3 linked regions of the Homo sapiens genome follow. The protein of the gene in region 1 interacts with the protein of each later gene in a pairwise test. Each region holds a gene or a part of one and is shown in the gene's direction. Other genes may lie near its edges.

Region 1 (3,617 bases):
AGAATAGGACTGCAGCTGCTACTGGGCCTGGGCCATCATAAGGGTAATTAGCCAGTAGTTTCTTTTGTTTGTTTTGTGTGGCGGAGCCTCACTGTGTTGCCCAGGCTGGAGTGCAGTGGTGCAATCTCAGCTCACTGCAACCTCCGCCTCCTGGGCTCAAGTGATCCTCCTGCCTCAGCCTCCCGAGTAACTGGGACTACGTGTGCGCCACTATGCCTAGCTAATTTTTTGTATTTTTTGTAGAGAGGGGGTTTTGCCATGTTGCCCAGGATGGTTTTCAACTCCTGGGCTCAAGCAATCTGCCCGCTTCAGCCTCCCAAAGTGCTAGCATTACAGGCGTGAGCCACTGCACCCAGCCCTGAGCTTTTGTGTGGTAAAAATATGAAGTATAGTGCAACATGATGGTTCCAGAAAGACTAACAATGTCCTGGTGCATAATTAGGCAGCAGACTGCCATGATTCCAGAGGAATTAATAACCATCTGTAAAACTGCAATTATTTTTCTTTTGGATGGGCTATAACACCAAAAGAGAGGAAATAGAGGAAAGCAGAAGTATTGGCACAGAAAGTTCATAATTAAGTATTTATCCACCAACCCATAATAGCTCGGGTGCTAGCTATTCCAATCAGCTTATGTAACATGTGAAACCTTGGTACTGTTTCTTTCCTTCCTCCCCTGCACAGACAAGTTAAATTAACAAGGATTTTCTCCATGATATTCCTTGCTGATATGAATATCAGTGCACTTACCAAATAAGTACTTGCCTCCATTAACATTATAGTCTAAGACAGACTGATGAAGACAGAGTGAAATAGAAAGGACAATGAGAAAATTACACATTGAACAAAGCACCTTATAAAATTAGGATTAATCTGACTTCTCTAGTATCTGTTACTCACAGATGGGTAAAAGGATGTGTCAACTCAATTGCCTCACACAATAGTGGGGATAGTAGGATACAGAATAGGATTCTCTGAATATATCAGTTCTCCTCTCTTCACCAATACACATAAGTGATGTAAGGTTTTTGAGAACGGGAGATGAGTCTTTAGTGTTTTTATATCTCCCTGGCATGTTTAGGACAAAGTGCTGGAACAACATATGTAGGATGGCTAGCACTTTTCGGTAGATTAATCCCAGGAGATCCCTGGAGAATTCCAATTGTAGGTCAGAAGGTAGGCATTGCAGGATTCTACCAGGAATCTCTGTCAAGGGGATTTTGGTATCTTCCTCTTTGGTACAGACTCAAGGAGCATGTCAAATCCCACAAGCATGAAGGAGAAAAGCTTTCTCTACCCCGGCATCTCAAAGTAGTGGGCCAGATTGAGCACCTAGTGATCACACTGGGCTCCCTCCGCCTGGACTGCCCAGCAGCTGTGGTTGGTAAGCAGAATTGAGGGCTGGACCTATGGACCCTAACGGAAACCCTCTCCCTACCCCCAACAAAACCTCATGTCATCTCATGCCTGTAAATATTGACTTTTTCAAAATGGTTCCCATTTTTTTGTACTGTAGACCTTGTCCCAATTTTTGCTCTCCAAAGTAATAGATGGGCCCTGAGCTACATTCAAGACATGTTGAGAATCAATCAGTAAAACAAATGTGGTCAGATAAAAAAAAAATTCGGCCGGGTGCGGTGGGTCATGCCTGTAATCCCAGCACTTTGGGAGGCCGAGGCGGGCGGATCACAAGGTCAGGAGATCGAGACCATCCTAGCTAACACGGTGAAACCCCATCTCTACTAAAAATACAAAAAATTAGCCAGGCGTGGTGGTGGGCGCCTGTAGTCCCAGCTACTCGGGAGGCTAAGGCAGGAGAATGGCGTGAACCTGGGAGGCGGAGCTTGCAGTGAGCTGAGATCGTGCCACTGCACTCCAGCCTGGGCGACAGAACAAGACTCCGTCTCAAAAAAAAAAAAAAAAAAAAAAATTCAAGGAGCAAGAGGCCGGGCGCAGTGGCTCACGCCTGTAATCCCAGCACTTTGGGGGGCCAAGGCGGGCAGATCACCTGAGGTTGGGAGTTCGAGACCAGCCTGACCAACATGGAGAAACCCCGTCTGTACTAAAAATACAAAATTAGCCGGGACTGGTGGCGCATACCTTTAATCCCAGCTACTTGGGAGGCTGAGGTAGGAGAATCGCTTGGACCCGAGAGGCAGAGCTTGCAGTGAGCAGAGATCGCGCCATTGCACTCCAGCCTGGGCAACAAGAGCGAAACTCCGTCTCAAAAGAAAGAAAAAAAAAAGGAGCAAGAAAACACATTTTTATGTATAGGTGAAAATGTCCCTTGAGAGCTTTCCATGAACTAGTTAGAGACAGAGAGCAACTTACTTACTCCTTTGCCATAAATCCCTTGATAATTTCCCACCAGTTTCCACACTTCTCTACATTTTACTCTTGACTACTCCAAGTTCTTGGTTTTTGTGTAAAGGCCTTTGTCCTTTAGAGTAAAAAAGACCTGGGTTTGAATCTTGGCTCTATTGCCTTGTAAGTTTAATGATCTAGGAAAATTACTTAATATAACACATGCTCGGCCAGGCGCGGTGGCTCATGCCTGTAATCCCAACACTTTGGGAGGCTGAGGCGGGTGGATCTCCTGAGGTCAGGAGTTCGAGAGAAGCCTGGCCAACATGGCAAAACCCTGTCTCTACTAAAAATACACAAATTAGCCAAGCGTGGTGGTGGGTGCTGGTAATCCCAGCTACTCCAGAGGCTGAGGCAGGAGAATTGCTTGAACCTGAGAGGCAGAGGTTGCAGTGAGCCGAGATTGCGCCACTGCACTCCAGCCTGGGCAACAAGAGCGAAACTCCATCTCAAAAAATAAAAAAAAAATAAAAAAAAAATAACACATGCTCAATATATGTTTATTGGATGTTATTGGATGGATGGATGGAACCTAATAGTGATTAGGCCAACTTCTAAGCAAGCATGGAAATGGCTAAATCTTAATCATTTTTTTGTTTTTATTAGATGACAATGAGAAAAACTTGTCCCTTGGTCTACAGACTCTCCGATCTCTGAAGGTAAGATTGACTCCACTTACCCCTTGATACTTCCTCTCTGAGGCAGGTATCCTCTTACACAGGAACTCATAGTGGTATCACTGACAAGTTACCTGTTTTCAGTGCATCATAAACTTGGATAAGCACCGGCTGATCATGGGGAAGACAGACAAGGAAGAAATCCCTTTTGTGGAGACAGTCTCTTTGAATGAAGACAAGTGAGTGCCCAAATGGGTCAGATCAAGTCACATCCATTTGTCATCAGCTGCGAGCAGGGTGGTGGTGGTTCTCAGACAGGACATGGGGTTGTATCCTGTCTTTGGCTTTCAATTATACTACAAATCCACCCTTCCCCACACCCAGAGTTCATCACCCCACAAAACTCTGTAGTGCACACATCAGAATGAGCAATGGTGATGCCACACAGAGTGGTAGGGAAATGACTAGCTTTGAAAGCAAAATTTTACTTGCCTTCAGCTTAACTTTTTTTGAATTTGGCATTATTTCTCCTGATATTTATTTCTCATTTCAGCACTTCAGAAGCATAACTACAGCCTGCAGCATGTCTGCACGTGTGCATGCATACACACCGGGTTGACAGATAGAGAAAACTGG
Region 2 (3,654 bases), on another chromosome or scaffold:
GGTTTAAAATTACCTAGCATGGGCTGGGCATGATGGCTCACTCCTGTAATCCCAGCACTTTGGGAGACTGAGGCGGGTGGATTGCTTGAGCCCAAGAGTTTGAGACCAGCCTGGGCAACGTGATGAAACCTCCTCTCTACAAAAAATACAAAAATTAGCCATGCTTGGTGCCGCACACCTGTATTCCCAGCTACTTGGGAGGCTGAGGTGGGAGGATCATCTGAGCCTGGGAGGTCGAGGCTGCGGTGAGCTGTGATTGTGGTGCTGCACTCCAGCCTGGGCAACAGTGAGATCCTATCTCCAGAAAAAGAAAAAAAGTTACCTACCATATTTGAGAGTGGCAGTGCAACAAAATGGCAGCAAATACCTGCTGTTCACTGTTTCCTGGGATGAGTAGGCTTGCTTTAGTTATTGTCTTAGTAGTTTTTACATTTCTCTTAGAATAATGTCATCTTGGTCACATGTAATGACTGATAGCTCTTATGTTTGGGTGGCTGACAGGATTCTGTAAATGTGTTCACTGATTTTTTTTTCTTTTTACTATATTTTTTGGGAATTAGGATATAAGAAATTTCAGGTATTGGGGCTGGGCACGGTGGCTCACACCTGTAATCCCAGCACTTTGGGAGGCCAAGGCAGGTGGATCATGAAGTCAGGAGATCGAGACCATTCTAGCTAACATGGTGAAACCCCATCTCTACTAAAAATACAAAAAATTAGCTGGGCGTGGTGGCGTGCACCTGTAGTCCCAGCTACTCAGGAGGCTGAGGCAGGAGAATTGTTTGAACCCGGGAGGTGGAGGTTGTGGCGAGCCAAGATCGTGCCACTGCACTCCAGCCTGGGTGACAGAGTGAGACTCCATCTCAAAAAAAAAAAGAAAAAGAAATTTCAGGTATTGAGCAAGAAGTTTGTCTACATTAGAGGTTATAAATAAATGTGTAGTCTGAGGCTAAATTCAACGTGTCTGTACATATTGCTTCACTTGCACAGTGCTTTTTTATGAAAAATGCAGTATTATTTGTGGGCAAGGAGTTGGAGGTTTCCATCATTGAGAGAATGGATAAGCAAAAATGTAGTGAAGGTACATTTTGATTAATATACAGTAGTTAGAAGCAGTAAACAAGATGTACACAGAAAGCAAGTGGATGGATCTTAAAAACATAGTGCTGTGTAGGAAAAAATACATGAAATTAGATATATAATGCTATAACACATGCAAAACATAGTACACGTAGGACACATTCAGTCACATAGCTGCATTAGAATGATTGCATGTGAGGAGAGGAGAATGAGATTGGGGAAAAGGATAAAAGGGAGTGAAAATTGTCATCATTTTAGAATTAGGAAAGTTTATGTTATATATTTTTTTAAAAAAATGAAAATACTGCTAATTCAGCTTGTATTCTCAAATAGAAACAACTGGATCTGTGCCCTAGTTCAACATAGTTTGGCTTCTACCTACTATACATATTCTTATAATCAGTTCTCTACAGAACCGTCTTAGAGTTCAATGACAATGGGACTAATATAGTAATTTTGGCCTTTCAGAATGCTTAAACAAGCCTGAAATCCATGCAGTTCGGAGCTAACAAACATTAGATTTACAATAGATAAAGAAAATGGATAGGAATATATTCAGGGTGGCATGAAAAGTCTCACTGAAACTAAATCCCTTTAAATGACAGATTCCAGGTTTGTCTCTGCTTTATCAATGTGACCTATATTGAAAACTTAATATATAATTATCCTCTTCTATAATTTCCCAATTAAAAATTTTTTATCAAAGTTGCATGGAGAGGCAGCCTGGTGGCATATATAGGGTTCTTTTAAAAAGTAGGAAACAGGCTGGTCGCTGTGGCCGAAGCCTATAATCCCGTCACTTTGGGAGGCCAAGGTGGGAGGATCACCTGAAGTCAGGAGTTCGAGACCAGTCTGGCCAACATGGTGAAACCCCCTCTCTACTAAAAAATACAAAAATTACCTGGGCATGGTGGCAGGTGCCTGTAGTCCCAGCTACTTAGGAGGCTGAGGCAGGAGAATTGCTTGAAGCCAGGAGACAGAGGCTGCAGTGAGCGGAGATTGCGCCACTTCACTCCAGCCTGGGCAACAGAGCAAGACTCCATCTCAAAAAAAGAAAAAAGGTATCAGTCATGAGGTACAGAAAAGGCTATGTTCCCATCAGCTACATAATTCCTTTAACTAGAAGGGTAGTGTTAAAAGAATGATGTCTAATTGACTCTCAAAGGCATTTATCCAATGGGTGATTTTTATTAAATTCAATTAAACAAGAGGTAAATAATCTGCTATGGGAACCATTTCACATGCTAAATGCTATGGAGGACAAAATGTAACTCCCATTCCTAGAATCCTATCTTTCAGTCATTTCTAGTGTCATTAAGAAGACAAGGCATATAAAATACACAAAGCTGTTAAGTAATAACATGAGTATACCAGATTATCTGATTATGTAATTAGTTAAGTCATGCAGACCGAGGTCAGAAGGACAAAGGTGTGGGCCTGAAAAACTAAAGAAGTCTTTGTGGAAGAGCTGGGATTAGACTCAGATTTAGAATGGCAGAGAACAAAGAGCTCACTAGAAAGAAGAACAAGAGCAAAAGTTGGGAATTAGGAACAAGTATGGCATGTTTGGGGGCGCCCAAGAGATGGTGGCTAGGCAGAGAGTTTGTATTAGACAGTAATAGGAAATTATGGGAGTAACTTTCAGAAGTCCTCTCAACCAGGGCCTCCTTTTAAGTAGCTAAGATAAATCAAAATTATATATTTATAATGGATGGAGTTAAAATATCAGAAATTCAGAAAGTTATTTCTTCGTCAAGGGCAATTGCATATTACCAATAGGTGGCAGGTAATATCAAAACAGGACATCTTTTGACTTAACAAAAGCTTTCTACTCAGCTCTTGAACCCAAGGAACCAGGTTCTGAAAGTCTAAATATGTTAGTTATCCTTCAGACTGGCTTTCATAGTTTGATCTTGCCCTTGCCTGTTAGATGAATCTTGAACACCCCTTAGACCTTTAGTGTTCCAGAAAGTTGAATGTATTTCCTCACTTTCTGTGCATCTTTGTTGGCTCACTCAGTCATTCGAATAATATTAATCGAACATCCATATAGATGAAGGAAACACCATGCTAGGCAATGGAGATCTGAAACTACTATAAGCCCCATATCTCAAAGACTTTACAATCTGATGAGATCAACATACAGATCAATGAAATAGAACAAATTGTCCAGAAATAGATGCACACATATGAGGTCATTTGATTTTTGACAAAGGTAAAAAAGCAATTTGGTGGAGAAATGATTGTCTTTTTAACAAAAGGTGCTGGAACAATTCAATAGCCTATGCAAAAGTAAATAAATAAATAAACTTCAACCCTTACCTCACCATACATAAAAGTTAACCCCAAATGGATCATAGACCTGGGCGACAGAGTGAGACCCTGTCTCAGAGCAGGGGGAAAAAAAAAGCAAATGTAATGAAAACAAAAATTGACAATTGGGACCTAATTAAACTAAAGAGCTTGTGCATTGCAAAAGAAGCTATCAACAGAGGAAACAGCCTACAGAATGGGAGAAAATATTTGAAACAATGCATTTGACAAATGTCTAATATCCAGAATCTATAAGGAACT
Region 3 (3,275 bases), on another chromosome or scaffold:
CCACCACACCGCAGGCCTCATAGACGTGGCTACACCCCCGGATTGCATAAATGCACACGCACATGCGCCCACACTCGGGAGAGGTTGGGCCGGCCCTCCCCAGCCAGCCTCAGAACTCCCTGGGGGCGTAGTGCCCGCAGCCCCCCTGCCTGCAGCCACACAGGCCAGTTCCTCTGCTCCTCAGAGCCCAGTGCCCGGTGGGGGTTAAGATTTCCATTCTCAGGCAAGGACGGGGAAAGAAACTTGGTAAGGAGAGGTGAGGAGCCCTCAGTTGTGAGCTGAGGAATGCAGGAGCTGGGCTGGAGTCTGCCTGTTGTGGGTCAGGCACTGTCAGGGCCCCTGGGGCTCTTCAGGGTCCAAACCGGCCAAGATGGCTGCCTCCAGGACACTCAGCTCCCAGCACCCTGGCCCCGAAGCCCACCTCCTTCAACATACTACACTCCCTTGCAGAGACTGGGGCTCCACCTCAGCTTCCTCACAGCTCACATGGGCATAATCTCTTCCTTGCTCCCAGGGTGGGGAGGAGGGTTAAGGACTATGTCATAAAGGGCCTGGGTCCCTGCCTGGCACAGCAGGTGGTAGAGGTGAAGATATTGATTGTGATTGGTGTTCTGTTTTTATTTACTGCCATTATCATTGTCATTCATCATCCTCATCTGTGTTAAAAAGGTATGGGGGTAGGAAAGCCAAAGACCCATAGAGGGGAGGCCCTTCCGGGGAGACATGGGGGATGAGGCGGTGCAGTGGGTGGGGCCTGGCCCTGGAGGAACAGCTGGGGCTTTGATCTTTGAATCCTCAGATGAAGTGTTGGAATTAATCAGTGAATTTAGTGTGGTTGCTGGGTGAAAGATCAAAATAAAAAATCATATTTCAGTATAGCAACCATGAGCAATTAGAAAAATAAATTTGTAATTATACCATTTATAATGGCATGGTGTTTTGTTTTTGGTTTTTGTTTTGAGATGGAGTCTTGCTCTGTCGCCAGGCTGGAGTGCAGTGGTGCGATCTCGGCTCACTGCAAGCTCCACCTCCCAGGTTCACACCATTCTCCTGCCTCAGCCTCCCAAGTAGCTGGGATTACAGGCACGTGCTACCATGCCCGGCTAATTTTTGTATTTTTAGTAGAGACGGAGTTTCGCCATGTTGGCCAGGTTGGTCTCCATGTCCTGACCTTGTGATCCGCCCGCTTCAGCCTCCCAAAGTGCCGGGATTACAGGCATGAGCCACTGCACCTGGCCTGTAATGGCATGTTTTTAATTAGTAAAGCGCCTGCCGATTCTGGCATAGGCAGGAAGACAGGATTCTTCATGAGGCCCAGCACAGGGGTGGGCACCTGTAGAAGATGTGGTCTCTGCCCTCAGAGAGCTTAGATACTTCCAGAATCCAATGGAAAACGGAGGTGATGATATTGAATAGCTCACACAGACATTGAGCACTCACTATGTACCAGGCGCTGTCCAAGCTATTGCCCCCGCCTTTTTTTTCCTACATTCACTCATTTAGTCTCCATGTTAACCCTATGAGGTGGGGACATCCCTGGCCAGCAGATGGGGAAAGAGCGGCACGGAGAGGTGTGGTGACATGCCAAGGACCCTCAGCCAGAAGCTGGCAGAAATGGGAACCCGACCTGGCAGCAGAAGTGCACTCACTTATCTCCTGAGCTCCACCACTTTCTATGTGGCCACTTGTGTCCAGTGGGCTGACCTGAGCACCTCTCAGTCCAGAACCCGGTGCCTCCAACGCATCTCTTCTGTCCTTGCAGGCTGATCTCCCTGTCCCTCTAGGAGCCCCTCGCCCTGGAGACATCCCAGAAAACCCTCCAGAGAGGTAATAGGACCCACAGGGTCCAGGAGGGACACTGGGGCAAGGAAAAACCCAGTGGTGATTCCCTCCTTCACCCCAGCAGACCTGCGCGGCGGGAACTCCAGCAAGCCCTGGTGCCTGTGATGAAAAAGCTGGTCCCAGTCAGGAGGAGGGCCTGGGGCCAGCTCTGCCTGCCCCCACAGCGGCTCAGGTGTGCCCCCAGGCGTCTCCAGAAGGAAGGAGGTGGTCTGACATTGGGAAGAGCAGGGGCTGCCCAGACCCTGCCCTAAATGCTCTCCCACCTCCCCACCAGAGTCACTCGACATCCACTGATCCCAGCTCCTGTCCTGGGCCTGCTGCTGCTGCTGCTGCTCTCTGTCCTGCTGCTTGGCCCGTCCCCACCTCCCACCTGGCCCCACCTCCAGCTCTGCTACCTCCAGCCCCCTCCAGTGTGAGAGGCTCTACTTGCCCCTCAGAGCAGTGTCTAGCTCAATAAATCCCCTGGCCCTCTCTCCACTGGGATCCCCATTGTTAGTCCACTGTTGCGCAGGCTTACCCTAGATAGAGTACAGGGGATCCACATCCCTGTATTTTTATGTGAAGTCTCCTAGTTTTTTAATGCTGACATTTCTTAACAATAGCAAAACTCCCCCAGTAATGGATTAAGCACTAAGGATTATTCCCTCACAAAACAAGCCTGGCGAGGGCAGCTGTGGGCACACAGCTAAGTCTCGGTTGCCTTGGGGTCAGGGCCTCAGTGATTCTCCTGTCCCCTCCCTCATGCTCAGGAGTTGGCAGTTGTAGCTTCCTACATCACATCTGCGGGAAACGGAAATTTCTTCCTTCCTTTTTATAAAGAGAGGCAGTAGCCTCAGTGTGCAGTGGGTAGATTCAAATCATATTCATAATAAAAGAGAAGCAGTTGCCTGCCCAGAGCCACCAGCAGACTTGTGTTTGTTTCACTAGCCAGACTGTTTGGTGTGACCACCCTTAACTGTAAGGGAGGCTGGGAGACCTGGGAGGTCAAGTACCTCTGCGGGGACTGGGTACCTTGAAAGTGCCTTGCCACACACCTCATTCACACTGAAAAACACTGCAGGCCATGGACCTAACAAACACTCTGGGAGTCACCTACACACCACCACCAGTGTGCAGCTGCTGAGTGGCCTTGGCATGCATGGCCAAGCTGCTTCGAAGGGCTCCAGGATACCTCTTCTCCTTGATTTCTTTCTCCTTCCTACCTTCTCTACAGCTCTGCCTTGCCCTCCCCCGATAGGATCCTGACTCTGTCCTGCCACCCCTCCACGGGTAGCAGCCTAGGTTGACCCAGTCCCAACTGCATCCTAAGTCAATAAAGAACAATCTTCTTGGGCCGGGCACAGAATCACTTGAACCCGGGAGGCGGAGGTTGCAGTGAGTGGAGATTGTGCCACTGCACTCCAGCCTGGGAGACAGAGTGAGACTGTGTCTTA

Evidence for each region.
Region 2: the proteins of NRIP3 (region 1) and EFHC1 interact in binary tests that used the Homo sapiens proteins (3 or more experiments, as listed by UniProt).
Region 3: the proteins of NRIP3 (region 1) and KASH5 interact in binary tests that used the Homo sapiens proteins (3 or more experiments, as listed by UniProt).

The regions. Positions count from the first base shown.
Region 1 is NC_000011.10:8,983,478-8,987,094, reverse strand, and holds part of NRIP3 (nuclear receptor-interacting protein 3), read left to right. Parts: intron 1-1,244; coding exon 1,245-1,384; intron 1,385-2,970; coding exon 2,971-3,023; intron 3,024-3,125; coding exon 3,126-3,220; intron 3,221-3,534; coding exon 3,535-3,550; 3' UTR 3,551-3,617.
Region 2 is NC_000006.12:52,454,789-52,458,442, forward strand, and holds part of EFHC1 (EF-hand domain-containing protein 1), read left to right. Parts: intron 1-3,654. UniProt on the Homo sapiens protein: Microtubule inner protein (MIP) part of the dynein-decorated doublet microtubules (DMTs) in cilia axoneme, which is required for motile cilia beating.
Region 3 is NC_000019.10:49,415,253-49,418,527, forward strand, and holds the end of KASH5 (protein KASH5), read left to right. Parts: intron 1-421; exon of another isoform or gene 422-906; intron 907-1,762; coding exon 1,763-1,827; intron 1,828-1,903; coding exon of another isoform or gene 1,904-1,906; coding exon 1,907-2,014; intron 2,015-2,116; coding exon 2,117-2,258; coding exon of another isoform or gene 2,259-2,299; 3' UTR 2,300-2,738; downstream 2,739-3,275. UniProt on the Homo sapiens protein: As a component of the LINC (LInker of Nucleoskeleton and Cytoskeleton) complex, involved in the connection between the nuclear lamina and the cytoskeleton.